Regions from separate parts of the Homo sapiens genome. Here regions 1, 2, 3, 5 and 6 are each linked to region 4. The links come from fine-mapping of genetic effects on gene expression. A gene starts in region 4. Each other region holds a variant in brackets. All regions are shown on one strand. Distances are from middle to middle.

Region 1 (5,186 bases), 160 kb after region 4:
TAATTATTGTAATTACTGTCAGTAAAAATCTGAGTATGACTCAGCAATTAGTTGCTGGTAACTGAGTGTGTTGTAATGCTGGGGAAAGGATATAAAACTTGTATTTTGAACAGAAAGGCACACATGTGGGTGAGCAGTGTTTACCACCACAGAATTTACCGTCTACACAGAATTGAGATAGCTGCACATGAATGTATAGTGAGCAGTGTAAGTTAATTCAGAGAAAGAAAAAATTATTTCCTGCTGAAAGGGTTCAAGAAGGAATTTTGTAGGAGAGCTGGGCATTGAACAGGCTCCTCCAGAACATGTGGGTCAGATTGGCCACCGCATGGCTGGGGTCCCCCATGGGCCAGTGATGCCCACCTATGGGAGCAGGTGACACGCTGCCTCCCAGGCCACGCATCGACACCCCTCCTGTCACGCTCCGTGCTTCTCTGAGCACTTCCTCCTTCCCTGTGGCCCTGGGCTCCCTGTGGGCCAGCCCTGTCCTGGCAGAGCCCCCTGTGCGTGTCAACGCACATCCTTCATAGATGAAAATGGACTTGAAGATCCCGCGTTATCAGTTGGTTAGCTCTCTCTCAAGTCTCCTTCGTGACTCTGCTTTATTTTTCGAGCAGCATTCTGGTTCTGAGCGAGGAGACACTGAGAGGGGAGACCACTCTGTGGCTCTAACCCCGCCTCAGACCAGGGCTCCGCACTGTCCTGCAGTGGCACAGGGTTGCTAGCCTTGGATTAGCTTTTGGTTCTCTAATGGGCTTTGCTTGCAGGTACAAAAATTTGGGGGAACCTGGAAAAACTCTTAAATCTCCTCATCTGAAAGATATTCATACATCTACTGATGACTTCCAAAGTACAAGGTCTAGAATACCAAGAGGTTTTATGTTGTCATAAATTAGAGTTTTAATGTATATAATTAGGTGAAACCAAATGTGTATCATATACAACAGAGTAACCGTGTTGCAGGAATTGGGCCTCGTTTTCCTGTTGTTTTCCTCACATCTAATTCTTTTTCTCTGGAAATGCCAGGGAACCTTTCTTTATTTTCTTTATTTTTATTTTTCAGTAGAGACGAGGGATCTGACTATGTTGCCCAGGCTGGTCTTGAACTCCTGGCCTCAAGTGGTCCTTCCACCGTGGCCTCCGAAATGCTGGGATTCCAGGTGTGAGCCCCCGTGTCCGGCAGGGGAACCTTTCTTAAGCATGAATGGTGTGCCCTCCTCAGGGTGTGTCCTCTCTGCTTCCTTTCTCAGTCACATCAGCAGGTGCTTCGTGTGCATCTGTGTGCCCAGCCTGGGCACAGCGGGAGCCCAGGCCTTCCTTCAAACGCAGCCTCCCCTGCACGTTCCAAACACTTACTGGCATTTTTCTTCAAGTGATGATCATGGCATTGGCCTTACTTATTTTAGTTGTTTTTAAAAGAAAGTTTTAAAAGTTTATCAAAGTGATGAACATACACATCACTTTTTAAAAACATAATCCCCACCCAGAGGCAAACCCTTTTAGCTATTTGTTCTAGTGGCATATGTTGGTGCTGCTTTGCACTGACTCATCAACTCAGGGCATCTTCCCTGACTGCCTGGTGTGGCCCCAGCACTTTCACACCCGTTGTTCCCCTCCCCAACCCCAGAAGGTCGTAGATTTACTCTGTCGGTTCTTCTTTGTTGGGAGTTCACCATGAAAAGTACTTTGCAGGAAAAGAGCAATGATAGAACTGGAGTAGCTCCTCGCATGACCCACCTGTGCCCGTTTTCCAGCATCCTGCCACCCAGCCAGGTCTGTCTCCTCCTTGGCCCGTTCTCCTCACTCAGGTTCTCTGGAAGTTGGCACAGTTTTACTAAAATAAAATCAGCATTCATAGCATTAGGACTATGTAAACACTGTTCTCAAGCAAGCCAAGTCATGTGTACTTGGGTCTGATTCTGGACTTTGTGTGTGAGTTCCCTGGGCTGCTGGTCTCCGTGCCCCCAGCCTCGCTGTCTTAATGAGAGGCCCTAGGGGAGCCTGCAGTGTCTGGCAAGGCCAGGTTGCCCTCAGGGCTTTCTGCTGCCATGATTTTCTGGCCCTTCGTCCCTGTTTGTTTTTCCCTGTGACCTTCAGTAGCAGCTTAGCTCCTTGGGGTATTTACTGGGAATGCATTGAATATGTGAATTAAACGAGCGAGAGCTGACATCTTAAGAATGTTGACTCAGCCCACCCAAGCAGGGAGCATCTTCCCATTTGTTCACGTCTTCTGTGTTTTCCAGGAGAGCTTTGAAAATCTTCCATGTCTGTGTTTTGCACATTTCATGTTAAACTTATTCCTATGCATTCAGTCTGCTCTGTGGCTTTCGAGATGGGGTTTTCTTTGCCATGATGTTCCTTTGTTTATTATTTGTGTATATCAAGGCTATTGATTGTTCTCTGTCAGTTTTAGATTCTGCTCATTCAGGGTTAAGGGCCCAGGCAGGAGGCGGAGGGAGGAGCTTTCAGCAGGGCGATTCCTTACTCGGTCTCTTCACTCTTCTGCCATTGCTGCCATGTGTACATTGCAGGCTCCTTCATTTGAGCAAATTCTCTCTTCCATGCTCCAGATGTTTTCAGAAGGACCGCGTACTTCTGAGAAACACTTGGTACCCCAGTGGCAGCTGCGTTTGCCTTGGTGTTGCCATGTGACAGGCATTACTTGTTTATCTCATTGTTGTTCCTAGTAGTTCTCAATGTTTGTTGAATGAATATTTATAACCATCATGTGTGGCAGTTCTTATGTAGTGTTTTGATTTGTTTTTTTGAGACCATCTCACTCTGTCACTCAGGCTGGAGTACAGTGTTGTGATCATGGTTCACTGCAACCTCAACCTCCTGGGCTTAAGTGATCCTTCCACCTCAGCTGGGACTACAGGTGTGTGCCACCACACCTGGCTAATTTTTTTTTTTTTTAATTGTAGAGATGGGGTCTCATTCTGCTGCCCAGGCTGATCTTGAGCTCCCGGGCTCAACCAGTTCTCCCACCTTGGCCTCCTAAGCTGCTGGGATTTTCGGCATGAGCCAGGGTGCCTGGCATTACCTGGTTTTATAGATGGAGAAACTC[A/G]GAGCCATGTGTCCAGGACCACACAGCTATTAACTGCAAACCCAGAGGAAAGGGTAGGGGATGAGTTCCAAGCATTCCCTGGAGTCCGTGGTAAATTTCTTCATTTCTTCTCCTGCAACAGGCCCGGTACAAGCAGAGCCTTGACCCAACTGTGGATGAAGTCAAGAAGCTCTGCACGTCCTTACGTCGCAACGCCAAGGAGGAGCGAGTCCTCTTTCACTACAATGGCCACGGGGTGCCCCGGCCCACAGTCAACGGGGAGGTCTGGGTCTTCAACAAGGTGGGTGTGCCTTCCAGCTTCCTTCCCGTTTCTGCCAAAAGCCATGCCAATTGCGGTGGTCGGAGCAGGTCCTGCCCATCCGTAGCTTCTGTTAAGCCATTGATGTTTACTGTGTTTCAACAAACCCAAATGCCATAACTGAACGGACCAGGTAGTCAGGCACAAGGAGGGGCTGTTTCTGTGGCAGAACGTGTTCATGGAATGACTGCCTTGAAGTGTGGTGCGTGTGGTTTATGTTCCCTCTGTAAGACCAGCAGTTGTTTGTAATTCTCCGAGGACAGACCTCGAGAGTGTCTGCCTTCTAGTTTGAAAAAATTGCACAATTTCTCAATTTCGTTAGAATCTTTCTTTAAGCATCGGTGATTTTCTTAGAAAATAAAGTGTTTTATATATTCTAAAGGGCTAATTCCAAGCTGCCCTGCAGGTGCAGGCTCTGGGCTTCCCTCCTCAAGGTCAGAATCACCAGCCTTTTGCAATTCCGTTGCCCAGGACCAGATGAAGTGCTTGCTCCCCTTCTGTAGCTGTTGCTGTGGGTGGTGGGTGCTGACTGTCATCCCCATCCTCCAGGGTGTGGTGGGTGCTGACTGTTGTCCCCACCCTCCAGGGTGTGGTGGGTGCTGACTGTCTCCTCATCCTCCAGGGTGTGGTGGGTGCTGACTGTTGTCCCCACCCTCCAGGGTGTGGTGGGTGCTGACTGTCTCCCCATCCTCCAGGGTGGGAACCTTGGTCTGTCTCAGAGCAGCCAGCTATGGGTCTCACTGCGCTCTGCGTGATGCATGAAAAGCAGTTCTTGGAGGGTGCGGTGGCCCCATATGTGCCTGAGCGTGTCTATGAGGGCACTGATTTGGAATCCAGCAAATCCGAGTCCCAGTTTCGGTTGTGCTGTCAGCCTCCTGGGCTTCTGCTTCCTTAGTGTGGACACCGCCTCCTGCCATCATAGTGAGGACTCTGACTCCGTTTCTTCACACACTGAACTCTCGGTTCCCGCCTACCGTCCCGGGTTCGCAGCTAGCATTCGGCACAGGTGGTGAAGCAGTGTGGGCCCAGAGCAGAGACCTCGAGGAAGGCTTCTGACCCTGGACACTGAGGAGTAGCCAGCCTCGGAAGTTAGAAAGGTATCCACCCAGCTCCTCCCGCAGGGCACAGGGCAGTGCCATCTCTCCCCGTGTGTATCTGGATACCAGCTTGATTTTAATTCCTTTCGTTAAATATTGAGTAAATTCAAAACGATCGTTGTGAAGGAAGTAGGATTTACAGAAGCAGGATGTAATGAACCACCAGGCGTGCACCACAGGCCCCTGGCGTGTCTTTCTCAGCTGCAGTCTCTCCTTTCCCTGCCCTCCCCTGTGGCGCCTGGCACAGTGAATTTGAATTTGTCCTTCCCTGGCTCTCCTCTGTGGAGCCCCCGGTGTGCTGGCTCTCAGGCACGGCGAATCCGGGAGATCGCTGCTGATACGCTGGGCGGACGCTGGCGCGCTCTTCCGCAGTGCGCTTTGCTCACTTGGTCGGAGGCTCTGCAGATTCATGCCACCGACCCCAGGGGCCTGCAGCCCTGCCTCTTCCCACATTCGCTGTCCCCTGCCGGGACCCCGCCCTTCTCAGTGCCTTCCCTGCAGATGGGCATTGGGCTGGTTCCCATCTTGTTTCTGCTGTAAACCGCGTGAGTGTTTCAGCTGCCCACCTTTCTCTCCAGCACTGGGTGTTGTCACAGGTTTTTTTTAATGATAGACTGTGGTGTGCTCTGATTTTCTCTGATAACCATTAAGATCGCGCACCCTGTGTCCGCCCGCCGGCTCCCTGCTGCTCAAAGCGCCTATCTGCTATCCACTTCTCTCTGCA
Region 2 (5,186 bases), 130 kb after region 4:
CATGAGAATGTTGTTCCCATGATTTCAGAGAAGAACAACTGTTTTAAAGGTCAGATTTTATTCTGTCCAGTATTCTGTAAAGGACGAGTTGAATATCAATGAAAGAAAGAGCTTTAGTAGCTGTGGCAGTGCTGTGGGTCTGCTGCCTCCCGGGTGCTTCTCACACCACAGAGGCTGGAGAGCCAGGTGCCCCTGCAGCCAGGGCTTTGCTCGGGGACACGCTTGCCGGAGGCCAGGCTACCCTAAGTGTGCACCGAGGGAGGTGGTGGGACCTGCCCGTTCTGCTGGCTCAGCAGGAGCAGCCAGGGGCTGGGGGCTTCTGGGGCTTTCTAGGGCGTGGGAATGTGGGTAGGGGGCATTTCCCAGCTGCTGCACAGGCCACTGGTCCTGGCCTGCCTTCCCTGAAAGCTGAGTCCAAATTCTTCTTCTCTTGCCCTTGCACGGAATCTGTAAGTCACAGAACACCCGGAGTGCTGCCCTTGCTGCATTAATAGCACCAGTGGTTTCTGGGGAACTTCCCTGACCTCATCCCTGTTGCATACAGTAGTTCATTCTTTCTTTTTTTTGAGACGGAGTTTCACTCTTGTCGCCCAGGCTGGAGTGCAGTGGCGCGATCTCAGCTCACCGCAACCTCCGCCTCCCAGGTTCAAGCGATTCTCCTGCCTCAGCCTCCCGGGTAGCTGGGATTACAGGCGTGCGCCACCATGCCCGGCTAATTTTGTATTTTTAATAGAGATGGGGTTTTTCCATGTTGGTCAGGCTGTTCTTGAACTCCTGACCTCAGGTGATCCGCCCGCCTTGGCCTCCTGAAGTGCTGGATTACAGGCGTGCGCCACCGCGCCCGGCCCAGTAGTTCACTCTTAAAACGCCTTGTTATGTTTCTCCCCTGCGCTCTGGTGACCCCCAGACCTCTCCATGGAGGGACAATCTTCTGCACCAGGAGCTCTTCCCCTCTGTGGATCATCTCTCTTTCCTCTTCCCTTCCTTTTTTTCCTGATACTTCTGATACTTATTCAAATAATTCATTTTTTTTGTTCTTCAGTCGTCACTTTCATGTTTGATTTCTGAATGCCTCTTTAGGCCTGGCCTCTGTCTTTGCTCAAATTGTGTATTTGAGACAGTCTACAACATCACTCAGGTATCTTTAGATTTGTCTTGTCTGAGTGGAATTCATCCTAAAATTGGAAGCTTTAGATGTACAAGAGATCTGAATAATAGTTTAAAACCATTACCCTCATCTGAAAGATAAGGTGGTGGGGCTGGGACAGAGAAAGTGACTTGCTCAGTGAAATCGACTGCAGACCGGACTCCGGGTTTCTTGGTTTCTTGTTCACTGTAAGGTTTGACCTTAAGCCAGTTTCTTGTCACAACTGTCTCATTTCCGACCATAATACAGAGAACATCACCTTTAAATTGTCCCTCTTTTATCACCATCCACTTAGTCACCAGGTCCTACCCGTCCCTTGTCCGTGTCGGGAATTTGCGCCTTCCCTCTCCTTTCCCACTCCTTGTTCTAATTCTCAGTCTTTATACTTAAGCCTCACTGTCATGCCACTGTTGCCATTAGATTTTCTGCTTCTGACCTTTTTAAGCCTTTTAACCATCCGGAGCGTTGCTGTCAGCACTCGATTTTGACATGACGCCTGCCCGCTGCTTCGTCTTTTTCTATTTGTACCCTATTTTTTTGATGGCACTCGCTACCTCTCACACACTGTGCAGTTTTCGTATTTATTGTGTTTAGGGTCTCTTCCCCACTTGACTGTGAGCTGTAGGAGGCCAGAAATTGTAATCCATTTGGTAACAGATGTACCTACAGCTCCCGGCCAGGTGGTCATCCGCAGTCCACACACGCATTCAGCTCTGGTATACGATAGATGTGTAGTGTAGCAGCACCTGGCGTTTGCCTGTAGACGACACACAGTAGTTGTTGAATTTGTGGGACCCTTGATAATCAGCCCCCCAACTCCCCCCCACATTCATTTCTGATTACTCTGAAGCATAAACCCTCCCCGGTAGCCACAAGGGTCTCCTCGGTCAGGGGAATGGATTCTCCCTGGTCCTAGGGGAGCACACGCTCGTCCTTGTTACCCTCTCTGTGGTGGAGCTGGGTTGCACACTGGAACTTATCCTCGCCGGGGTCAGTGATCCTGGAGGTCGGTTGCCTCCATATTGAGCCCCTAAAGCACCTGGCCCTGGGAAGAGCGTGGGCCCTGGAGCGTGGCCCAGTATTTCCTCTTCTGTTTTGCTGTATCCTGAATTTCTCTTCTTTTTCTTTCATTTCTCAGAGTCCAAGTCACATCCTGCTTCCTCTGGGCTCACCATCTCTGCCGTGTTGCTCCACGGGCCCCTCCTGGCCTTTAGTGCCCTCTGCAGCCTGTGCTCTTCGTCCTTGTGCTGCCCGGCAGCCGATGGCCTTTCCTCCAGGCTCGGCACAGTAGGAAGCGCCAATGTTCCTGATAATCAAATTTATGGGCGTGCGTGTGAGAGAGAGAGAGTGTGTTCCTGCTGAAGCATCTCGGTTAAATCAAAACACTCTGTAATTATTGGGTTCTTCTTTCCTCTTGCCAGAACACTCTCTAATTATTGGTTTCTTTCCTCCTGCTCTTGACATTTGATGTGTCTATTTGCCCTCTCTGTCAATAGTGCTGAGTAGAATACTGCAGGCACAAGTCATGTTTTTGTAACGATTTTCGACAGATTAGCATTCCTTTAAAAAAGAACTTAAGTCGGTTGGGGAAGGGGGTCCACTCATATTACAAGGGGGATACTTTCAAAAATCCTTCAAATAATGGTAAGAGAAGCAGCTTTGCATAGTTGTGAGGGAACCTGGGGCTTACTGGAGAAGTGAGCACACTTCTCCAGGCATGCCATCTGCAGCCTTCCTTTTCTTTCTAGGCTGACC[T/A]ATGGTCTTCTGGTCACTAGTCATTCCATTTGGCAGTAGAATCACCTTCTCAGTTTTGAAATAGGTGTAACCAGTAGGGGAAAAGGATTGTGGTGTGCGTGGTGTTCTTTGCGCACAAAGATGACCGTGGAATTTTTGAAGGAGGCAATTATTGTCATTGTTTAATATATAACTGGAGGCTTAATTTCCAAGTAGCTGTTGTAGCATTAAATGTCCCTGGCTAGGTGCCAGTAGCTATTTCCATTGTACATTGAATCTATTGCTTCTTTTTAAAATACAATGGTTCGTAGGTTGATTTATCTTTATTTTAAAGAAAGGGCTAATATCACAAGGTAAGTTTTTGAGCAGATACTATATTACGAAGTGTTCTGACTCGGATACTGGAGAGGAACAGTGGCCCTGGATACCTCCTCTGTGAAGGTCAGGTTAAGATCTCTTTATGCTCACAGTATAAAGATTAGGTTTGGCTGAGAGTTACAGGGGAGAGGAAATAACAATTGTGTAACTCAAATTAAAGTTTGTTCACTCACATTAAGATTCCCTAGAAGTAGTCATTCCAAGGCTGTTTAGTGCTCCAGCATAGCAAGGCCTCGGGCTCCTCCTATGTTTACTTTGCTGTGCAAAGGTTCTTTTTTTTTTTTTTTTTTTAAATGGTTACCTCATTGTCCAAGATGGCTGCTCAAGCTCCAGCCATTGCATATATGAGGGGACTTCAAAAAGTTCATGCAAAAAAAGAATTAAAAGATAAAAATAAAAAACAAACTTCTCAGCCAGGCGCGGTGGCTCACGCCTGTAGTAATGCCAGCACTTTGGGAGGCCGAGGCGGGCAGATCACGAAGTCAGGAGATCGAGACCATCCTGGCTAACACAGTGAAACCCTGTCTCTACTAAAAACAGAAAAAATTAGCCGGGTGTGGTGACAGGCACCTGTAGTCCCAGCTACTTTGGAGGCTGAGGCAGGAGAATGGCGTGAACTTGGGAGGTGAAGCTTTCAGTGAGCCGAGATCGCGTCACTGCACTCCAGCCTGGGCGACAGAGCGAGACTCTGTCTCAAAAAACAAACAAACAGACTTCTCAACATAAGGTCTAACAAGATCAAGACACTTTTGTAAATGACGATACCACCCATTTAATCTGTCCCTAAAGAACGGAGGGTTCTAGGAGTTTAACTGTGTCTATACAGTCTTTTTACATTATTTTATTTTTTGAGACAGAATCTCATTCTGTCACCCAGGCTGGAGTGCAGTGGTGCAATCTTGGCTCACTGCAACCTCCACCTCCCGGGTTCAAGCGAGTCTCATGCCTCAGCCTCCCACGTAGCTGGGATTATAGGCGTGTGCCACCACGCTTGGCCAATTTTTATATTTTTAGTAGAGATGCGGTTTCACCATGTTGGCCAGATTGGTGTCAAATTCCTGACCTCAGGTGATTGGCCTCCCCAAAGTGCTGGGATTATAGGTGTGAGCCGCCACGCCCAGCCCTCTTTTTACATTATTAACAGAAGGAAAAATACGTTTCCTGTAAAGATTTTTTAAAGATTAGGAAACAAACAAGTCAGAAGGAGCCAAATCAGGACTGTAAGGCAGATTTTTAATGATTGTTTCCCATGAAAACTGTCACAAAGTTCCCCTTGTTGGATGCTTGTTTTGGATGCGAGCAATGAGCAGGAGCACTGTTATCACTGTGGAGGTGGAGGGGGCTCCCTGGTGACACTTTCCTGGGCATTTTTCTGCTCAAGCTTAGGCTTTCTCAAACACTCGTAACAAGCAGCTGTCATCGTTGTTTGGCCTCCAGAAAGCCAACAAGCAAAATGCCTTGAGCATCTCAAAGAGCGGTTGCCGTGACCTTCGCTGTCATCCAGATTGCTCTTGCTTTGATGGAGCCACTTCTTGGTAGCCGGCGCTTTGATTGTGGTTTGTCTTCAGGATCTGCTGGGAAAGTCGTGTTTCATTTCCTGTTTCAATTCTTCAAAGAAATCCTTCAGGGTCTTGACCCCATTTGTTTGAGATTTCTGTCTAAAGCTCTGCTCTGGTCTGCAGCTCATCTGAGTGCAGCATTGGCAGCCATCAAATGGAAAGTTTGCTCAACTGTAATTATTCAGTCAGAATTGTGTAAGCGCGATGGAGAGGTCTGTGATACTGGCTGTTGTTTGTGTTGTTAATTGTCAGTCCTCTTCACTTAGGGCATGAACTAGATGAAGTCTTGCCTTGCAAATTGGTGTGGTTGGTCTGCCACTGAGAGTGTCATCATCTTGGCCCTCCTTAAAATTAATTGTCCACTTGAA
Region 3 (5,186 bases), 220 kb after region 4:
CATGCGCCCGACTACAAAGAAAGCTTTACTAATCCGGAAGAATCAGCATCGTGTGAACTCCGTGGCAGACCACACGCAATGAAGCTAGAACTCAGTAACGAAAGGACAGCTTTAACAAAAGTCTGAAAACTAAAATCTTAAAATCCTTGGATTAAAGAGGAAATATTTTATATTTTTTATTTTTTTTTACATGTACACACTTACACATTTATTTGACTTCATTGTAGAACTTTGACATTAATCCCAATAACTAATCTCTTTATACATATTGTTTCATCCTGACATCAACCTGAACAGGGAAAATTGACTTATATAAGCACATAGCTACTATAGATGTCTTTTTAGAAACTGATTATTGATATATAGCAGAGAAACCTAAAATCTCTTTAACTAACTTGAAGTCCTGACCGTATGACTTCTTTTGTTATTTTATTTTATTTTATTTTATTTTATTTTATTTTATTTTATTTTATTTTATTTTATTATTATACTTTTAAGTTTTAGGGTACATGTGCACAATGTGCAGGTTACATATGTATACATGTGACATGCTGGTGTGCTGCACCCATTAACTCGTCATTTAGCATTAGGTATATCTCCTAATGCTATCCCTCCCCCCTCCCCCCACCCCACAACAGGCCCAGAGTGTGATGTTCCCCTTCCTGTGTCCATGTGTTCTCATTGTTCAGTTCCCACCTATGAGTGAGAACATGCAGTGTTTGGTTTTTTGTCCTTGCAATAGTTTACTGAGAATGATGATTTCCAATTTCATCCATGTCCCTACAAAGGACATGAACTCATCATTTTTTATGGCCGCATAGTATTCCATGGTGTATATGTGCCACATTTTCTTAATCCAGTCTATCATTGTTGGACATTTGGGTTGGTTCCAAGTCTTTGCTATTGTGAATAGTGCCACAGTAAACATACGTGTGCATGTGTCTTTATAGCAGCATGATTTATAGTCCTTTGAGTATATACCCAGTAATGGGATGGCTGGGTCAAATGGTATTTCTAGTTCTAGATCCCTGAGGAATCGCCACACTGACTTCCACAATGGTTGAACTAGTTTACAGTCCCACCAACAGTGTAAAAGTGTTCCTGTTTCTCCACATCCTCTCCAGCACCTGTTGTTTCCTGACTTTTTAACGATTGCCATTCTAACTGGTGTGAGATGGTATCTCATTGTGGTTTTGATTTGCATTTCTAAAGAGGAAATACTTTAAAACTGATAAAATACTCACAGCCAAATGTTAGTAATAGCACATTTGCTGTTTGTGGGGTGTATGTAGCCAAAGCAGGCGAGGATTTAATACATTTAGTCAGAAAACAAAGATTAAAAAAACAAGAAAAATTAAATGTTTGCCTTAAAGAGCCAGGGGAAAAATGCAATAAACAGATGAAAAACAAAATGAAGAGAGCGAATCTGAAAGATACAGGCAGCCCTACGCTGTCCGTCGCATCTCTGCATCCATAGGGTCTCTGCTTCATTTCCTGGGAGTCCTGCCAGTGTGGGAGGGGGCGTCCAGGGCCTCTGAACACTCTTCTCACAGATTTTCATCTGGGCACTTGCTCTCAGTTCTTCTTTTCAGAGAGCCAGTTGTCTCAGTTCTTGATACTTGCTGACAGCAGGCTTTGGGAGGTGAGTGCTTCATTTTGACTTTGCACCGTCCAGGTCAAAGGCTTCACTTCTCTCACCTCTGCTGAGCCACTTACGCTTGTCCAACTGTTTCTTAACGTTTGGTTGACATTTTACAGTTACAGGGATAACAGTAGCTAGCATTTGTCGAGCGTCACTGGAGCCATTCCACTAATGCACTCATCTAACACCACACGCCTGTAAGGTTTGGACTGGCGTTAGTGCTGCTTTCAGGATGAGGAAGTTCAGGTTGCTTGGAGAGTAGCTGGTGGAGTCAGGATTCAAAGCTGGGTGCCCAGGCTCCCGAACTGACAGCCTCAACTCTGTTGTTCCGCCTCTCTCTCTCCTGCCCAGCGTCTCTCATTTGCCATGATTTCCTTCCTGGGGCTCTCCGTCCTTGTCCTGTTCTTTTTCTCTCGTTATGGAGGAAGTTGAGATCACTATCATCTATAGTCTGTCACGTCTAAATAGAGGTTACCACGACTTACTTAACGTGGTAAAGGCTACATCAGAGCTCTTCAGCAAACCAGCCTAGTGGGGAGACTGGAGACGTCTTCCCTTCGAAGCTGGGAACAAGGCAAAGATTCT[C/T]TCTCGCACTAAAACAGTATTAGAATTCCTGACCCCCAGTAAGATAACTCCATAACCAGCAGAAGGAATGTGAACATTTGTAATTATCTGTTTACAGTAAGGGCCATCTAACATAGTTCACTGATTCTAGCATGTACTTTTTAAATTTTTTTTAAGACGTGATCTTGCTTTGTCACCCAGGCTGGAGTGCAGTGGTGTGAACACGGCCCACCGTAGTCTCAACTTCTCGGGCTCAAGCAATCCCCCCACCTCAGCCCCCCAGGTAACTGGGACTACAGGTGTATGCCACCATTCTGACTAATTTTTGTATCTTTTGTAGAGACTGTGTCACCATGTTGCCCAGGCTGGTCTCGAACTCCTAAGCTCAAGAGATCCTCCCACCTCAGCCTTACAAAGTGCTGGAATTACAAGCATGAGGCACCATGTCTGGTCCTTTTTTAAAAAATAGAGACAGGGTCTCTCCCTTTTACTTAGATGGGAGTGCAGTGACACAGTCATAGCTCACTGCATCCTTGAACTCCTGGGCTCAAGTGATCCTCCTGCTTTAGCCTCCCAAAGTGCTGGAATTCCAGGCATGAGCCACCACGCCTGATCCCAGCATGTGCGTTTTCACACTTAACATATCTGGGGTCCAGAAGCATCTTACAATAAGTAACATACCTGTTTAGTTGGCAGTTCTTTTCCTTTGTTAATAGTGTATAGAAATGCTTGCAAAGGTCCACCTAGAGGTGTGCACTGTACCCTTTCTTACTGCTGTTTGTAAGCTCACTGTTTGTCACTAGGGAAAGAAACAGGCACCATTACTTAACTAGGTGTTCATGTACCGGCAATAATTGATCTCAAAATTTAATGCTATTTGTAGTTTTTAATTAAAAAACTCTCAAATGTATGGTCTAAGTTTTTCTTTAAGTCCAGAAAAAAAAGAATACATTAAACCCTAAGTAAGTAGAAGAAAAGAAATAATAAAGAGAAGAGCAAAAATAAACAGAAGTTGACCCCAAAATTTGTAAAAATTCATGAAACTAGTTGATAGTTTTTGAAAGGTTCATTAAAATTGTCAAAACTTTTTCTAGAGTGCTCAAGAAAAATAGAAGGAAGATACAAATGACTTTCATCAGAAATGAAAGAGGGCACATCCTTACTGATCCTACAGATGTTAAAAGAATAAGGGGCCAGGTGCGGGGGCTCATGCCTATAATCCCAGCACTTTGGGAGGCCGAGGCAGGTGGATCGCTTGAGCCCAGGAGTTCAAGACCAGCCTGGGCAACATAGCAAAACCCCATCTCTACAAAATATAAAAATTACTCGTGCGTGGTGGCATACGCTTGTAGTCCCAGCTACTTGGGAGGCTGAGGTGGGAGGATCACTGGGAGGCATTGAGGCTGTAGTGAGCAGTGCAGTGATCACGTCACTGTGGTCCAGCATAGACCACAGAGTGAGACCCTGTCTCCAAAAATGAAAATTATAAGTAAATAAAAGGAGAATAAGGGAATCATTTTAATCATGAAGGACCATATGCCAGTAAATTCTTCATCTTAGATGCAATGGATAAATTCTGTGAAAGACACAAGTTATCAAATCTGACAGAAGAATAAAAAGAAAATTTGGATAGGATATATCTGTTAAGTAAATTAAATTTCTGGTTAACAACCATTCAAAGACAACCCCGCACCCAGATATCTTTACTAGTGAATTTTACCAAACCTTTAAGATGAACAGAATAGACAGACAACCTTTGTGAAATGTTTAAATATCTGCTGACCATATTAAGTTGCTGTCCCAAGGCTCGGTGTAATTAGTAATGGTAAAAGCTAAGAAAATCTTTACAAGGTTACTGCCTAACTGTTGACTAATTTGACCAAATTTTATGCACCTGGGGCCTTTTACAAATCAGCTTACTTCCCTAAGAAAAAGTGTTACTTGAATTTTTTTTTTATGATTTTATTTTATTTTATTATTTTTGAGACAGAGTCTTGCTGTGTCGCCAGGCTGGAGTGCAGTGGTGCAATCTCAGCTCACTGCAACCTCTGACTCCCTGTTTCAAGTGATTCTCCTGCCTCAGCCTTCTGAGTAGCTGGGATTACAGGCACGTAACACCATGCCTGGCTAATTTTTGTATTTTTAGTAGAGATGGGGTTTCACCATGTTAGCCAGGATGGTCTCGATTTCCAGACCTCGTGATCCGCCCGCCTCGGCCTCCCAAAGTGCTGGGATTACAGGCGTGAGCCACCGCGCCTGACCACGTGAATTTTTTTTTAAGAGCAGCTTGCCTTTATATTTTTGGTTCACGTTGGGACTTACCTTCTAGTCATTTACTGTTGGCTCACATTTCCTCTTCTCCCATGTCTGTCTAACGGGAGAACCATGGAGTGCGTGATCTCACTTGGGGTCTCAGTAGGCCGCTTAGTGAGTCCCAAAGACTTTTGTGAGAGTTTGAATGCATCCGTGTGTAATGTATCTGGAGGACTCAAGGGTAGCAAGTATACACAGAGTATCCTTTTAACATAAAAGGAGCATTCAGAAAAGAATTAAGACTGTGCAGTTCAGCCCACAGTTGGGCTCTCATAGCTACTGAGTTATTCATGTAATCCTCGGAAATCAGCTTGGGTGAAATACTGCACGGGAAAGAGTGCTCAGCCCCGGCCTCACTCCTGCCTGTCCCAGGCCTCCTCACTGTCCGTGTCTCATGGGAAGAAAGTCATTTGTTGTCTCCTGCTTGATGTCATCATCACTATGTTCCAGATTAGCTTCAGGACTTGTTTGAAATCATACCTACTAATCGACTGACTTATATCCCCATCACACGGTGACATATTAACTGCTTATTTGCCTCTTTGTATCTTCTTCTTAAACTTCTGGGCATTTTAGTGGCAGTTTGGCTTCTTGTTTGATTTATGTGCCTAAGCGTGCTCATGCCTCCATATTTAATCAGTGACGTTAGGTCACATTGCATGCAAAA
Region 4 (5,186 bases):
GGAAACTGAGTCTCACACAGATTCAGTGGGCTTTCCCAGGTCACAGAGCTAGTTAGGGATGAATGGGTTTAGCGTTGCTGCTTTTCTGTAACTGTGACTTCCTGCAAGAGCTGCTGGAATGCAGCTGTCTACAGCCACCGGAGGTGGGGAGCAAGGTGACAAGGCAGAGGACAGGAGTGATTTTGTTGCCTTCAGATGAGAACGGGGTCTTCCTAAGACCCTGCATCCCTGAAGCCTCTGCTGGTAACTGTGAGGATAGTCTCTGCCAACAGAGAGGGTGCCCTGAGTTTCAATAGGAGAATTGGCTCCATGGGGTGTAATAACCAAACGAATGTGCGGAATGACAATGATTTAATCCTGTAGCCTTTATTAAAGGCTTGCTTTGTGCTGGGTGAGAAAGGTCTGGGATTGTATTCTTCATTCTCATTTTGAAAGGAACACAAATGCCATCAAGATTTTGATATGGATGGCCACATGTGTCTAAGCCCCGGAAAACCATCCTGAGAGATCAAGACCATCTTGGCCAGGATGGTCTTGAACTCCTGACCTCATGATCCACCCACCTCAGCCTCCCAAAGTGCTGGGATTACAGGCGTGCACCACCACGCCTGGCCTCGTTTTATTCTTATTTATTTATTTATTTATTTATTTATTTTTGAGATGGAATCTCACTCTGTCACCCAGGCTGGAATGCAGTGGTGTAATCTCGGCTCACTGCAACCTCTGCCTCCCAGGTTCCAGCTCTTCTCCTGCCTCAGCCTCCCGAGCAGCTGAGACTACAGACGCACGCCACCACGCCCAGCTAATTTTTGTATTTTTATTAGAGACGGCGTTTCACCATGTTGGCCAGGCTGGTCTCGAACTCCTGAACTCGTGATCCACCCTCCTCGGCTTCCCAAAGGGCTAGGATTATAGGCGTGAGCCACGGTGCCCTGCCTACATTTGGTTTTATAGTCCACCTTACACAGTTCTCTATACATTGTAAATGAGCCAAATTTCCTGAATTGAAAAAGAGAGTCACACAAGAGGCTTGCCTCCACGCACAGACATGTAGTTTTAGATGTCTGCACGTGAAGCTATATCAAAATAAGAATAAACTACTGCTACCAAGAAGTGGGAAAAAAATTTAAAAAGGATAAACTGCTCAGAAAACGAAACAGATTAAACAAAAAATTGTATTAGATGAAATTTTTTTTCATCGAATCTTGCTCCAGACTCTTCTTCTGTTGCTTCAGACCCTTCTTCATCTGAAGAGTCTTGCTCTGTCTCCCAGGCTGGAGTGCAGTGGCACGATCTTGGCCCACTGCAACCTCCGCCTCCCGGGTTCAAGCAATTCTCCTGCCTCAGCCTCCTGAGTAGCTGGGATTACAGGCGCGCACCACCACGCCCAGCTAATTTGTGTATTTTTAGTAGGGACGGGGTTTCACCATGTTGGCCAGGCTGGTCTCGATCTCTTGACCTCGTGATCTGCCCGCTTCGGCCTCCCAAAGTGCTGGGATTACAGGCGTGAGCCACGGCGCCCGGCCTTTCACTTGGTTCTCTATGAAAAAATTAAAGAGAAAATCTGATTGACACTGTGGAGGACACTACACTCCAAAAAAAAAAGTACTATATTTTCTAATATTATCAGTGCTTTTTAATATTTTCTAATATTATCAGTGAAGCTTTTGCCGCTTTTTCAAAATCTGGAAGAAACAAGGCGGTTGATTCCTTTAATTTCAGGAGCATGTAACTTCATTTATAATGACAATGTTTTTGAAAAAATAAATTAAACCGACAGTTTCATTTGTAGGATTGACTTTAATAACACGCCTCTACTGAACAAATGGCGATTAACTGGGGAAAACGGAATTATGGTAACCGAGGTAACGGGGTCGGGGACTCTTTCTCCTTCGCTGCATGCTGGGTGGCGGGGAGAGACCGCTCTGAGGAGGTTTGGTCTGTCGGCCACGCCGTAGGCCGCGGTGCATTCTGGGTCCTGGCAATATGGCGTCCTCCTTGATGGGCTGATGAGATGAGTTTCACTGTAGCTCCAAACCAGAGGGCAAAGCTCCCATGACCCAATAAGCCCACATTGTCCCTTTCCTCCGTGGTTCCGTGTCGCCCGTTTCTCAGGACTCGTTCTCAGGCAGGAGAGAGCCTCGGGGCTGAAGGCCAGGACCAGCCAGGCCGCGCGGACCTGAGGTTGAGGAACCGGGTGCAGGCGAGCACGATGGGCCGGTCGTGGCTCTGGTTGCAGCAGCTCAGACGAGTGCGGGACCCGCAGGGCTGAGAGTGGCTGGAGGAGACCCAGGGCCCTTTGAACCCGATCCCTTGGCCGGAGACCTCAGCCCAGTCGGCCCAGTGGGCGAACCGGCACCAAGAGCGGCCTGCCTGTCTTCGGAACTGCTGAGGCGGTGGAGGCCGAGAGCAGGGTCATCGTGAGGCCTGAAGTCTCTTACGCTTTTGGCAGCTCCCCTCGCAGCCCCTCTGGAAACGTACAGCCTCAGGAGCAGCCAGTGGCTTGGGACCTGGGGTGGTGTGTGTCTGCGGAGCTTCTTGGGCTGCCCCATTTCCTAGCGGCCCCCACCTCCCCACTTCCCGCTCAGAGTTAGAGATAAGGATCTCAGACTTTTGCCTGAGTAAGGGTCTCCGCACTCTTTATCCATTTGGTTTTCGATTTCCCGTTTTTGTTTCTTATTTCACCAATTCTGGTACACGCTAGTTTTTAAGGCTGGAGGTTCTCGAGCGCTTGCTGCCAAGGACTCCCCCACCCCCTCCCCCACTGATGGAGTCCGAAATGCTGCAATCGCCTCTTCTGGGCCTGGGGGAGGAAGATGAGGCTGATCTTACAGACTGGAACCTACCTTTGGCTTTTATGAAAAAGAGGCACTGTGAGAAAATTGAAGGCTCCAAATCCTTAGCTCAGAGCTGGAGGATGAAGGATCGGGTAAGTGGATTCTGAAGGCACCCCTTGAACTTGGTAGTTTCCCCAACAAAGAAAGTTTACAGCCCGAAAAGTGTCCTTGGGAAAGCGCCGACATTTCCCCCTAGCCACACGTTGTAAGTCAACTAGAAAGCAAAAGCCATTTCAGACTGCAGTTTTTGGTTGAAAATGGAAAATGCTGTTTTGGTTAGTCATTATTCACTGGGTAGTGTTAATTCAATTCCAACTAAGTTCTAATTCAGATAATAAAAGTTAAGCAAATTTGAAAATAGAGCATTGCGAGTATTTACATGCTCTTTGGCATACTACTTAGTTCTGTAAACACTTAGAGGAAGGACAACGTGCGATATAATCTTTATACCCACATGATTAGTCTACTTTTTAAAATATCCAAGCTGGGTGAAGTGCAGAAGTCTGATATACTATGCTAGGAAATGAGATTACTGGAAAATGTTCAACTAGTAACAAATTAGTGCAAAGTTATTATAAAGTTACACTGAACTTCATTCTAGTCTTCTAAACAATTTCTCTTGAAGCTAGATTTTCCTCCTTTTATGTAGTGTCCTGTTGCTGTAACTTGGAAACAGGATTTCTTTAATCGTGAGTTAGGGTATGAGGCGTCGAGACTTGGGTGCAGGTTTTAGGGTGTCCGCATGGTGTTTGGAGTGTGGAGAGTGACTCACAAGCAGCTGGTAGGAAAGAAAACAGCCGAATTTTGTTGGATTTGTCCTTCATAAAACACCCATCTATTTCCTGGCCTCAAAAGCAAAAGGGTAGTACTGCTTCTCCTCTATGCACACTTATAATTTGTCTTTTTGTAAGTTATTTTCTCCCTCCAGGCTGCTTTTATTTGCACATTTCAGTGGTATAAAAGAGGAAGTTGGTGTTACAATGTTTGATTTTCTCTAGGCTTATGTATATGTTTATGGAATATTATTGTTTTTTAGTATATGATGTTGAACATATATAAGATTACACTTCTGGGCTGGGCGCGGTGGCTCACGCCTGTAATCTCAGCACTTTGGGAGGCCAAGGCAGGCCTCCCAAAGGCAGGCGGATCACCTGAGGTCAGGAGTTTGAGACCAGCCCGGCCAACATGGTGAAACCCTGTCTGTACTAAAAATACAAAAATTAGCTGGGCTTGGTGGCAGGTGCCCGTAATCCCAGCTACTCGAGAAGCTGAGGCTGGAGAATCGCTTGAACCTGGGAGGCAGAGGTTGCAGTGAGCCGAAATCGCACCATTGCACTCCAGCCTAGGGGACAGAGTGAGACTGTGTCTCAAAAATAAATAAATAAATAAAACTTCTGGTAACTCTAGTCAGTCAGTCAGTAGTAACCAGTTAGCTACTGACTTGGCTTACTTCTAAAAGGTTAGGAAAATTTGTTTCATCCAAAAGCATTTTAAGGAGTTAAATAAGTTAGTCATTGGGGGAGGTTGTATAAATTCTATCTTATGGACATCTTTAGTAGTAACTATATAGTTAAAAGCTTTTGTGGTTGCTATACATATATGAAAAGACTTTTTAAAAAATTCTTTGTGGAGGGCAGTTTTTTTGTTGTTGTTATTTTGAAATGTGGTTCTCTCTGCTGTCCTAAACCTATGTTCCAACAGTTTGAAACTGATTAATGGGTATACGTTTGACCTTTTAATTAAAACATTAATTTGTGAATGATCAACATTCCCTAATAAGCTTTTCACAGGTTGTTAAGAGAAACAAAAGTTCTGTGACTCTTAGTGACTACTGAGATTGCTGCTTAGAAAGGAGCTGGGGAGAAAGTTTGCTGTATCTGTTTTTCGGTGGAGAAAATCAGCAGCTAACATCTTCAGTTGAGTGTGTGGGAGTTTGGAATCTTGTCATCTCTTCCCTCTTCCAAAGGTCAGGTCCTTTGGAATCTTGTCATCTCTTCCCTCAAGGACCGTATCACACATGCTATAGGACAGAAGTTGCAAACTCAAATGATATTGAGTGGGGATGGTAGCATAAGAGAATGAAACAGGCCACATTTAAGAAGAATAATGGCATAGGTTCAAAGATAAAGACAAATGGCAGCTGACATTTGGCACAGTGTGTGTGACAGTTTCTGGAGGGTGGGAACAGGGGCTCCCTGATGCCATAACTGAAGGGGCAACTGGGCTATGGCCAGGCCTCTCTCTTTGTCTTTGAGAAGTCAGCAAACTTTTTTTTTCTTTTATTGTAAATATTCATACTAATTCAGATTTATTACCAAACACACTGTAGTCCAACACTGCAGGCTGAAC
Region 5 (5,186 bases), 150 kb after region 4:
TTGGATATGACTTTGCCTAAAAATGGCACCTTAAGGTGTTTTAAACATTTATCAAACGGTTTCATATGTATGGAGTATGTCTGTGCAGCATTCTTAAAGTGACAGGACTACCTTATGAAGTCAGTAAATCCTTTCATCTCCCCAGACAGCCAGAAGCTAGTCAGCAGATGAACACATTCACTTGTATGTTCCCCTTGGCAACATTATTCCTAGAGAGGTTGCATCTGCATCTTGGAGTCCGCATGATAAATCATTTATGTACTCACAGAAACCATGCACTCCCCCGTGGGAAGAGTTCTAGGTGTAGCAGGGGCGGAGGACGCCACCTGCTCCCTGACATCCGTCTTTCCGAAGCCATCGCTGGAGCCCTCTGCTGAGTGTGGGCAGTGAGGCCTCGTCTTACGCATGTGGTCAGAGGAGATAATGTGGCTAGAAGTGCTTTGTAAGCGCCAAGGATTGCTGTTATGAGGAATTTACTAGATTTCAGGCTTTCATCAGATAGTTAGCGAGGAAGCGCAAAAGCACAGCATGGTCTCCATGTTTGCTGACCTGCAGCGAAAAGTCAGAAAGCTAATTGGAGGCCATTCATAGGCTGATTCTACCTTACACCATCATTATACTTTTTGTCTATAAGACTGGAGAAGATCTTTCTGAGACATATCACTATCAGTGTTTTACGCGTATGAAACATATTTTTCTTTCCTTCTTTATGTTCATTTTTAAAATTTTTGATCAGTGCCCTCAAGCATTCTCCTATTCAATAGAAAACATATTTTTCTAGGTATGATAATCTTTCAGATTTTTGGTATGTGTACCTTTGCTAAAAACACATTTAATATTTCTACCTGTCTGGACACCTTTTAAAAATGTCTGGCTGCACCTTGGAGAAACGCTTCATGCAAGCAGATTCTAATTAAAGTAGGAAACTTTACTTTACCATTAAGTTATATGTAAAAGCATTCTAGGGGAGAGTCTTTTAATCATTGAAACATTTTCAAACGTGTTTGCTCATTTGCTTCTTTATTTGTTTTTATGGCTTATTCATTTGTTTATTTTTAAACTTTTTATTATGAAAAATTTCAACATATACCCATCATCTATCTTCAGTCATTTTCAGCTGCCAGTTCCAGTCTCCTTTCATCTGTGCCCCCACCCAGTCCCCCCTTCCCACTCCCCTGGCTGATTAGGAAGCAAATCCCAGACTTCATGTAATTTCACCTGTCAATATTTCTGAAAGAAATATTTACTTTCTCTAAAGATAAGTATGCTTCTAAACACACACACACACATACACACACACACAATGTTTGTTTGAATCAGGATGCAAGTGAGATGAATGTATTGTGAGTTACTTCATCTATTCTGTTAATCCATGTAATTAATCCAAAAGTCAGTCCCTCACCCCAGCACTCTCTGTGCACCTGTCTGCCTGTCTCTTTCTGCAGTTGATTGGTTGAAGAAACTGGATCATGTAGCCTGTAGAATTTATCGTGGTCTCGATCTCGTCAGTGGCTTCTCCCCCCTTGCCCTGGGTGAGCCACACTCACCTCTGCTCCTTGGATTTCCTCTCGGTGGTGGACACAGCCGGGCTCCCCTAGATTCTGGTTCAGTCAGGGAATGTTTCATGTGTGGTGCTGTGTCCTTACTTTAGGATATCTGATAGTCCCTCTGTGATATTAGCAGCTATTGATGATCATTGTCTGGATCTATTTATTAGAGATTATGAAAAGATGGTGTTATTGTTTCATTCCTTTTTTTGCAACAGGGGATCTCACTTGGCCACCCAGGCTGGAGTGCAGTGGCGCAAACATGGCTCACTGGAGCCTCAAATTCTCGGGCCCAAGTGATCCTCCCACCTGAGACTTCCAAGTAGCTGGGACCACAGGCACATGACACTATGCCTTGCTAATTTTTAAATGTCTTGTAGAAACAGGGTTTTGCTATGTTGCCCAGACTGGTTTTTAATTCCTGGCCTCAAGCAATCTTCCTGCCTCAGCTTCCCAAAGTGCTGGGGTTACAGATACGAGCCACTGTGCTTAGCTGTCCTTATTTGTTAACTGGAGTATCTCTATATAAAGAAACCCTCTCATCAATTATTTGGATAGCTCAAGGTACAGTCATAGAGGAAAGCCAGCATCAATACTTACTTTCCTTTATTAACCAGTTTTCAAAATCGTGTGTGGGCTTCTCTCAAAGGTGACTAGTAAGGGGTGTGTGGGTGTGATATGTGTGTGTGCATGTCGTGTGTGTGTGCATGCACGTGTGTGCATGCATAGGTATGTGTGTGGTGTGGTGTGTGTGGCCACCCTGTTGAAGGCACTACCTACTGTATTCGTTTCTCACTGC[A/T]TCTCTCAAAGGTGACTAGTGTGGGGGTGTGTGTGGATGTGAGTGATGTGTGTGTGTGCACGCATGTCAGTGTGTGCGCATAGGTGTGTGTGGTGTGGCGTGTGTGGCCACCCTATTGAATGCATGACTTACTCTATTCGTTCTTCACCGATGTCCACGTCGTTCCATCTTTGTGTTGGCCCCTGAGCCTTGTGATGCAGTTCTCGCGGTCCTCAATTGCTTCATTTTGATATGGTATGACAAGCCAGCATGTTCTGTGCCATTTTGTACTTCTTCTACCCTAGGCCTGAAATCAGCCACGTGTCTGTCTCCAGGGAGTCTTGGTTTCCTTCCATGGGAAGTGGTATGGAGAGCTTAATCTGGGCTCCAGGGCTGCTCATTGACCCTTGTTCAGCCCCCTTTCTCTATGGGTGTTTCAAAGATAAAATACGAAGGCGCTCTTACACATCCAGGTTCAGGTCTGCAAGGTCTGCTTACTCTCATGGGTCCTACAGCTGTATCTGCTTCTTTCCACATGGAGTGCTCAGATTGTTCATGAACACCAACGTAATTACCCATTCTCTTATCCTGCACCACACCTGGCAGTTTCAGAAAGCAACACCAGCACTGCCACTGACGCGGTTACTGAGAGCCGCTGCCGAGGCATAGCCGCTGCTGAGGCACTCGCCCTTCCTTCTCAGGTTAGGCACAGATGTCGAGTGACATTACCCTGTATTTTTATTTATTTATTTTTGAGACAGGCTCTCACTGTGGCCCAGGCTGGAGTACAGTAGCAGAATCATAGTTCACTGCAGCCTCAACCTCCTGGGCTCAAGCCATCCTCCCACCTCAGCCTCTCAAGTAGCCAAGACTATAGGTGCACGCCACCATGTCTGGCTACGTTATGTTATGTTATGTTATGTTATGTTATGTTATGTTATGTTATGTTATGTTATTTTTTTGAGATGGAGTCTTACTCTGTTATCCAGGCTGGAGCGCAGTGGCATGATCTCGGCTCACCGCAACCTCCACCTCCCAGGTTCAAGCGATTCTCCTGCCTCAGCCTCCCAAGTAGCTGGGATTACAGGCACATGCCACCATGCCCAGCTAATTTTGTATTTTCAGTAGAGATGGGGTTTCTCCATGTTGGTCAGGCTGGTCTTGAACTCCTGACCTCAGGTGATCCACCTGCCTTGGCCTCCCAAAGTGCTAGGATTACAGGCGTGAGCCACCGTGCCTGGCCTAATTTATTTATTTATATTTTTAGTAGTGATGAAGTCTTCCTATGTTGCCCAGGCTGGTCTTGAACTCCTGGCCTCAAGTGATCCTCCTGCCTCAGCCTCCCAAAGTGTTAGGATTATAGGCATGAGCCACTGTGCCTGGCTGGATTACTTTTTAAAAAAATTAATTTTGCTTTGTAGTTATGTAAAATATTTCATGAGTCCAAAGTTAAATACACAAAATGAAGTTTATTGAAAGGAGCCTGGCTGCTCTTCCTGTCCTGGTGAGCCTATTTTATCTTTTCTTCTGTAGGTCACCACTGAAATGTTTTAATAATATGTGTACCACATGTGATGACACGTATGCGTAACCTTGGGTACATTTATATACGCACACACGCACACAGTGTTTTCTCTTTAGGGAAGTGCTGTATGTTGTACATGGTTTCTTCTACCTTGCTTCTTGTTGCTGTATTAGACTGGAATCCACGTGTCCTCATTGGAATCAAAGCTTCATTGTTTCCTCTAAAGCAGAGTTTCTCCAGCTTGGCCCGATTGGCATTTGGATCAGCTAATTCATGATTGTGGTGGTCGTGTGCTCATGTGCTGTGCGGACAGTCACAGGATGTGTAGCAGGTCCCCAGGCCATTGCCATCAGATGCCAGCAGGGCCCACTTCTCCCAGCAGTGCCGACCGAGCCTGTCTGCAGACAACACCAGTGCCCCCGAGGGCAGAGTTGCTCCCAGCGGAGATGGTGTTTCTCGGGTTCATTGGGGGGATTCTGAGCACCCATTTCAGAAGTGGATTTGGCCCCATCTGGAAGCAATAGCTTTTCTTTTTGGACTTTGAATAATAAACCAGCTATTCTAGTTCTTGTCTGCCTCTTCTGCAAATTAAGGAAGGAAGGAAGAATTGTTACTGAATAATACATAAAGGAAAGAGTCGATGATTTTACAAATTTCACGTAACTCTGCCCTTACTGGGCAGACACGTGTTGAGAACATTACGAGTTACTGTGACCTTGTAGTCCCTTTGGGTTCGGTGTACGCAATTTCCTACTCTCAGCATCTGCCAGCCCAGACTCTGGCAGACTTATGCCAGCCCTGGGTGCTGTAGGGTCAGCCACCCCCTTCCACGCAGGGTGGGCGTCCAGATGGTGCTGTGGGAAACAGCGTTTTGCCAGGGGCCAGAGAGCTGACTCAGATAGTGACCTGGAAAACAGACTGTGGATCAGGTGGGCACGGGCCTGGAACAGGGTCCCTGAAACACCCAGCAAGAGGCTGGGGAATGTCTGGAGAGCCCGGCATGGTCCGGAGCGTCCACGCAGCCAGCAGCTCACATCCTCTTGCTCCTGGCGGCCGATGCTCTGCGCAGAAACGGGCTTGGTCTGAACGGAGAGGGACATTGTGAACTTGAAATGAAATCTGACAAGAAATTAGAAATTTCTTCAGAAAGTAAAGAGCGCTGTCAAGAATGCGAGCTGAAGATTTGCGTTTACAGCTGTAGAGCAAATACAGGCGGCTCTGACATCTCAGCTTTTGTTTGCCACTGCTGCAGCCTCAGGTGCCTCATCTGGGGCTTCATTCAGAGTGGGTGGGGAGGCGACAGGTCGAGGCAGTTGCCCCGTGCTCACGAATCCCT
Region 6 (5,186 bases), 420 kb after region 4:
CGGCTCTCTGGCCTTGGTTGCAGCCTCCCCACGTGGCTTCAGGCCGTTGTTTTTAGATTAGGATTCTGCCCACCTGCCGCCTTGTGTTGTGAGGCTCCAGGCATGTAGCTCTGCTGACACGTGTGACATTGGATCCCAGAGCTGCCCCGTGGGGCAGTCCTGAAAAAACCACGCAGGGCCCGGGGCAGCGCCACGCCCCTCACGGAGTGCACCATGCATGGGCCCTGCAGAGGACTGGTGGGACCGGCCCGGCATTTCCGGGCCTGAGGTGGGCGTGGGGGTTCCTGAGACCCCGGCAGGAGCTGCCTAAGGATGCGGGTTGGCCTGCGCCCCCCCGCCCCCCGCAGTGTCTGCCCGCACCTGAACCCCTGCTCACCCCTTCTCTCTCCTTGCAGCCTCACCTGGCCGTGGGAAGCAACGACTACTACATCTCCGTGTACTCGGTGGAGAAGCGTGTCAGATAGCGGCGTGACCCGGGCCCACCAGGCCACGGCCGCCTGCTGTACATAGTGAAGCTGTCACTCGCCGGGGCACGGGGCGTCGGCTGCTGCGGCCCCGCAGTGTGAACGTTGGCTGCTGCCTTAGCTGCTGATGACGGCAGGAGGGCCCTGCTACTCGCTTTTGTCTGTCTTCGCTGTCGTGTCTGGAATGTCAGGGAAGGGGAGGGCTCGGGTTGACGGTGGCTTCCCACTGAGCACCAGCATCCAGGTGCACCCCCGCGGCCACGGCGCCTCTGTCCCTCTCCTGTTCTGTGTTTCTCTGAGACGCTGAAAGGGGAAACACCTCACTTTATTTCCATGTAATCAGAGCATTAGCTGCAGAAAAACCCCCCGACAGAGCCCTGGCGGAGAGGCAGGCGCTGGGGCTCCTACGGGTCCCTGGGGCAGCTGTCCCCATCAGGCCAAGAGCGAGCGAGAGGCGCTGCCCCAGCCAGGCCCACCACCTCTCACAGTCAGTGCACGCAAGCAGGGACATTTCCTAGCCAGCTGGGGGACACTGGAAATTCGGGAAACCAAGAGAGAGGAAGAAGGAGACGCCCCTCCAACTGGCGGGTGTGAAGGAAGCCGCCCAGGGGTCCGGGCTGTCCTTGGCCGCTGGCAGCATCACTGAGCAGGAAGCGCACAGCCCACCCTCCCCGCACCTCCAGGTCTCTGGACTCCAGTTTTGGCCCCTCTCACACAGAGCTGTCAGCAGGGGCCGCTGTGGCGGTGCACAGGGGAGGCAGGTCCTTGGCGAGGTAGCCCCTGCCTTAATCCACGGGGCTCCTTTCCCTCCGAAGGGCTGCTCTTCCCCACAGGCGCGGGGACAGCAGCCCGACCTGTGGTCTCCATGCCTGTGCCCTCACACAGGTGTAGCACACGCATGTGCAGATGGCACCACGGCCGGCACCTGGGGGCACACACATGCAGGCGGCGTGGTCTCCCTGCTCTGTCCCCACACGTTCCTCACATACAGGCAAGAGGCACTGCCGGGTCCCGGACGGCTCCGGGTGACACCAGCCCCGTCTCCAGCCTTGAGCCGCCCATGCTGATGCGACCTCGGCTGACAGCTGGGCCTGTGGTGCAGACAGGAGCTGTGTGGACAGTCCCGCCCAGGAGGGGCCGCAGGGCGTGTATGAGCAGTTTTGCAAACAGAACACAACCACAATGATGGTATTTTGAAAAGTGTTCTTTCCGTGTTCGTCGGGAATCAGGATTATTGAGAGGTGAAGGAGCCAGGTGGCTTCATTCTGGCGGTGAGAGGCCCACGACCACGGGAGTGAGAGCTGGTGTGGCGAGGCCCGGCTCTCCTGCGGTGTGGCTGGTGGCCTGCCGTGGCCAAGAGCATCTTCTGGGTGGATGGAACCCTGCCTGGTCACATTTGGCCAGAGACACACCTGGCCCTCAGGGGGCTGAGCTGGAGACTGAGCTGGGGCTGGCCGGGACGTGACAAGGCAGGACAGAGGCGGCCCCTCCGCTGCTCCTTTTTGGAATGCGAGCTCCCACCAGAAGAAGGTTCCGGCACGAATCCCATCCCCACGTCTGGGCCGAGAAAGCAGCCCGGGTCCGGAAGGTGTAGAGAGTCCCGGCCTCACTCAGCTCACAGGGCGTGCCAGGCGGCAACACCAGAATCTTCCAGAAGCCCAGCTCCACCCGCACACGCAGCTTCCCATCCAGTCCTTCAACTCAATTCTTACCCAACACGCGTTTC[T/C]GTTTGTTTTGAGACAAAATCACCACCTGTCAAAAGGCAGGTGGCTCCAGAGGGGTCAAGACCCCCCCCCGCCCCCGCTCCACCCTGGAGCCCACCCCCATGGGCACCGCGTGCCGCCTGCACGTGGGCTGTCTTCACAGGTCTGATGTGAAAATTCAATCACGACGTTAACCGGCTCGAGAGAGCGCCGGCCTAGAGGCTCATTATCTATTTATTTTACCAAACGCGAATTGAGACGGACTTTGACAAAACACGAAATGGTAATGTGAAGCTAAGAGCAGAGAGTGACCAACAGTAAACAACACGCGCAGACTCCGCGGCTGGCGGCTGTGTCTTTAAGGAAACTGCCCACCCCACCTCAGGGGGGCATCGGTCAGAGCAGAGCTCTGGGGGGTGGGGGGACGTTGCCCGGGTCCCCCCTGCTGTCCCCAGGGCCACCAGCAGCTCTGCGTCCCGGGTGCTCTCCAGGCAGGCACTGTGGCCACAGGGGGCCTGGCACGTCGAGTGTGCAAAGGTCTCGGTCCTTTTCTCCCAGGCAGTGCCCCCAGCCCTGTGGCGCAGACCCCACATCAGGGAGCGTACTGTGTGGCAAGAGCCATCTTGTGACGTAGGCCAGACACGTGTCTTTCTCTTTAAAATGACGGTTATCCTCTCACGGTTAGAGGCCCCATTCAAGTCTGCATTGAAATCTGGGCCACGTCAGAGTTCCTGGGGGAGAAGCCGCTTCCCCGCTCCTCCCCACTTCTGGAGGCCCCCACTCTCCTTGGCTCGTGGCCCCTTCCTCCAGTTCAGGGCCTCTGACCCACGCCCACCGTCACCACTTCTCATGCAGGCCAGAAGTGTTTCCAGGCCTAGGGGCCGTACCCACCTCGGGCTGTGTGGGTCCTTAGCCCTAATCACATCTGCACATCCCTCTGGCCAACTCTTTTTGGGTTTGCTTTTTGTTTTGAGATGGAATCGCACGCTGTCACCCAGGCTGGAGTGCAGTGGCACGATCTTGGCTCACCTCAACCTCCACCTCCTGGGTTCAAGCGATTCTCCTGTCTCAGCCTCTCAAGTAACTGGGATTACAGGTCTGTACCACCACACCCAGCTAATTTTTATATTTTTGGTGGAGACGGGGTTTCGCCATGTTGGCCAGGCTGGTTTCGAACTTTTGACCTCAGGTGATCCACCTGCCTCAGCCTCCCAGCGTGAGCCACCACGCCTGTCCCCGTCTGGCCAATTCTTGAAAGGCTCCCGTTTCCAGATCACACTCTGCTCTGCAGGTCATGGCCTGTCCCTTGAGGTTTTTCCCAAGCAGCAAGGTCCGTGCAGGGATTGGGAGCCAGGGGGAATGTTGTGGAAGCCACAGCAGAGGCAACGGGCCTGGGCATGGTCCTGCGGGGCGAGTGGGAGGCAAGGGTCCGTGGGGATGGTCATGTCAGCCACACTGCACCACCTCAGGGGCCTGACTTCTGGAGAGCTTGGGAACAGGCTCTTGTCCCCCCGGCCCCTCTCACCTGCCGACCAGAAATTGGGTCTCGGGCACTGAGTAGCTTGCCCAAAGCCCTGCCTGTTGGGTGGTGGCAGGGACTGGGGTCCTAACCCCACCCCAAGGCCATGTGCGGAGACCTTTACTCCACCACTTGGGCTGGGGGGTGTGTTGGGGCTGGGGGAGCCACGCACTCGGGACCTACAGGTGCTGCTTGTGCAAGCCCCGCCCCGCCCTAGAGCAGGCCTGCAGGAGTGGCAGCTCGGGACTCGGATGCACCAGGGCGATATGTGGAGCAACCAGCCCCGCTGCGCACACAGAGGGGGCGCCTGCTACCCGCTGGGCCCCCACCCACCACGGCCTCATCACCAGGGCTCGTGGCTCCTTGAGGACGTCCCCTCTCACTCAGTGCTGCACTGAATGGCCCTTCGGGGCTTCCCTCGTGTTCATGTCATTCCTTTTTCCAGGATAGATTCTGGCACCCACTGCAGCCTGGGCCCTCCTCACTGAGCCCGGCTCGCCTGCCTCCCTCCTCCACTTTTTTTTTTTTTTTTTGACAGGGTCTCACTGTCACCCAGGCTGGAGTGCAGGGGTGTGATCATGGCCACTGCAGCTTTGACCTAGGCTCAAGCAATCCTCCCACCTCAGCCTCCTGAGTAGCTGGGACCACAGGCGTGCACCACTACACTCGGCTGATTTTTGTTTACTTTTTGTAGAGACAGGACTCAGTCTCACTATGTGGCTCAGGCTGGCTTTGAAGACTCGGTCTCACTTTGTTGCCCAGGCTGGCTTCGAACTCCTGGATTCAGGGGATCCTGCTGCCTCGGCTTCCCAAAGCTCTGGGATTGCAGGCGTGAGCCCCACGCTGGCCCCTCCTCCACTTTTAAGGACCTTGTGATTACACTGGGCCCCCCGGGATGCTCCAGGGTCACCACCCTAGTTTAAAGTCAGCTGATCCAACCTTATTTCATCTGCAACCTGGATCCCCCGAGCCAGGTAGTCACAGGCTCCCACTAGGATGTGGACATCGATAGGGAACACTATGCTGCCAACCAACCCCTGTCTACAAGCCAAAGAGCATCCCACCAGGTAGAGCCCACGAACACTCAGGGGTCTTGGGCAGGAGGTGGGTGGACACAGGGCGGGAAGGAGATGCTCAGTGGGGTTGGGGGAAGCACCGGCCGCGATGGGCCTCCCAGATCTCAGGGCCAAGGCATGGGAAGCTGGCACCATGTCCGGGTCCTTGGGGCTGTCGGTAAACAAGTGGATCCCCCATGACACAGCAGCTGCTCCCAAGCCCCAGCCGGGGCCGGAACACAGGGCACGTTGCCATGGAATCCTGGAATCCTGCGCTGAATTGCAGTTTGTTTCAGGCAAGGACGCCCGGCACTCACGCAGCTGTGCCAGGCGGGCTCCTGTTGAGAGAGTCATATTTTTCCCATTAGCACCAGTTTTTCTGTCACCGAGATGAGTACAAATCGAGTTCTTGTAAACATGGGGATGGGCACGCTGTAGAAGCCAG

Alleles and levels. Alleles are on the strand shown, and positions count from the first base shown. SD is a standard deviation of normalised expression in the study named. Not every link is listed here.
In carriers of allele A in region 5, the expression in unexposed skin of the gene that starts at base 1,976 in region 4 tends to be higher than with T alone (moderate effect, 0.48 SD a copy in GTEx).
As copies of C replace T in region 6, the expression in monocytes after interferon gamma of the gene that starts at base 1,976 in region 4 goes up (small effect, 0.33 SD a copy in Fairfax 2014).

Evidence for each region. PIP is the estimated chance that this variant, and not a neighbour inherited with it, causes the effect. A credible set is the group of variants that fine-mapping cannot tell apart.
Region 1: its variant is the best candidate, but not a certain one, in a credible set for the expression of RPTOR in whole blood (TOPMed, PIP 0.76).
Region 2: its variant is the best candidate, but not a certain one, in a credible set for the expression of RPTOR in blood mononuclear cells (TOPMed, PIP 0.59).
Region 3: its variant is the best candidate, but not a certain one, in a credible set for the expression of RPTOR in whole blood (INTERVAL, PIP 0.88).
Region 5: its variant is the best candidate, but not a certain one, in a credible set for the expression of RPTOR in unexposed skin (GTEx, PIP 0.70).
Region 6: its variant is the best candidate, but not a certain one, in a credible set for the expression of RPTOR in monocytes after interferon gamma (Fairfax 2014, PIP 0.66).

Annotation. Positions count from the first base shown.
Region 1 is chr17:80,704,653-80,709,838 of GRCh38, forward strand. RPTOR (regulatory associated protein of MTOR complex 1) reads left to right here. Exons shown (of 34, transcript NM_020761.3): 4 at 3,189-3,347. Among named protein-coding and RNA genes, the nearest start is that of RPTOR, 160 kb to the left of the region's middle. RefSeq lists an enhancer at 343-462. The variant A/G (reference allele first, on the strand shown) is at 3,068.
Region 2 is chr17:80,668,836-80,674,021 of GRCh38, forward strand. All of the region lies in intron 3 of RPTOR (regulatory associated protein of MTOR complex 1), which reads left to right. Among named protein-coding and RNA genes, the nearest start is that of RPTOR, 130 kb to the left of the region's middle. The variant T/A (reference allele first, on the strand shown) is at 2,903.
Region 3 is chr17:80,763,694-80,768,879 of GRCh38, forward strand. The region is part of intron 6 of RPTOR (regulatory associated protein of MTOR complex 1); the gene reads left to right. Among named protein-coding and RNA genes, the nearest start is that of RPTOR, 220 kb to the left of the region's middle. The variant C/T (reference allele first, on the strand shown) is at 2,228.
Region 4 is chr17:80,542,863-80,548,048 of GRCh38, forward strand. It overlaps RPTOR (regulatory associated protein of MTOR complex 1), which reads left to right and starts at 1,976. Exons shown (of 34, transcript NM_020761.3): 1 at 1,976-2,929. The coding sequence starts at 2,768. RefSeq lists enhancers at 1,670-2,496, 1,830-2,189, 2,470-2,569, 2,497-3,323.
Region 5 is chr17:80,689,053-80,694,238 of GRCh38, forward strand. All of the region lies in intron 3 of RPTOR (regulatory associated protein of MTOR complex 1), which reads left to right. Among named protein-coding and RNA genes, the nearest start is that of RPTOR, 150 kb to the left of the region's middle. RefSeq lists enhancers at 4,653-5,186, 5,121-5,186. The variant A/T (reference allele first, on the strand shown) is at 2,347.
Region 6 is chr17:80,963,867-80,969,052 of GRCh38, forward strand. It overlaps RPTOR (regulatory associated protein of MTOR complex 1), which reads left to right. Exons shown (of 34, transcript NM_020761.3): 34 at 396-2,502. The coding sequence ends at 464. It overlaps LOC400627 (a long non-coding RNA gene), which reads right to left. Exons shown (of 2, transcript NR_148968.1): 2 at 2,373-5,079. Among named protein-coding and RNA genes, the nearest start is that of CHMP6, 25 kb to the right of the region's middle. RefSeq lists enhancers at 317-866, 1,417-1,966. The variant T/C (reference allele first, on the strand shown) is at 2,191.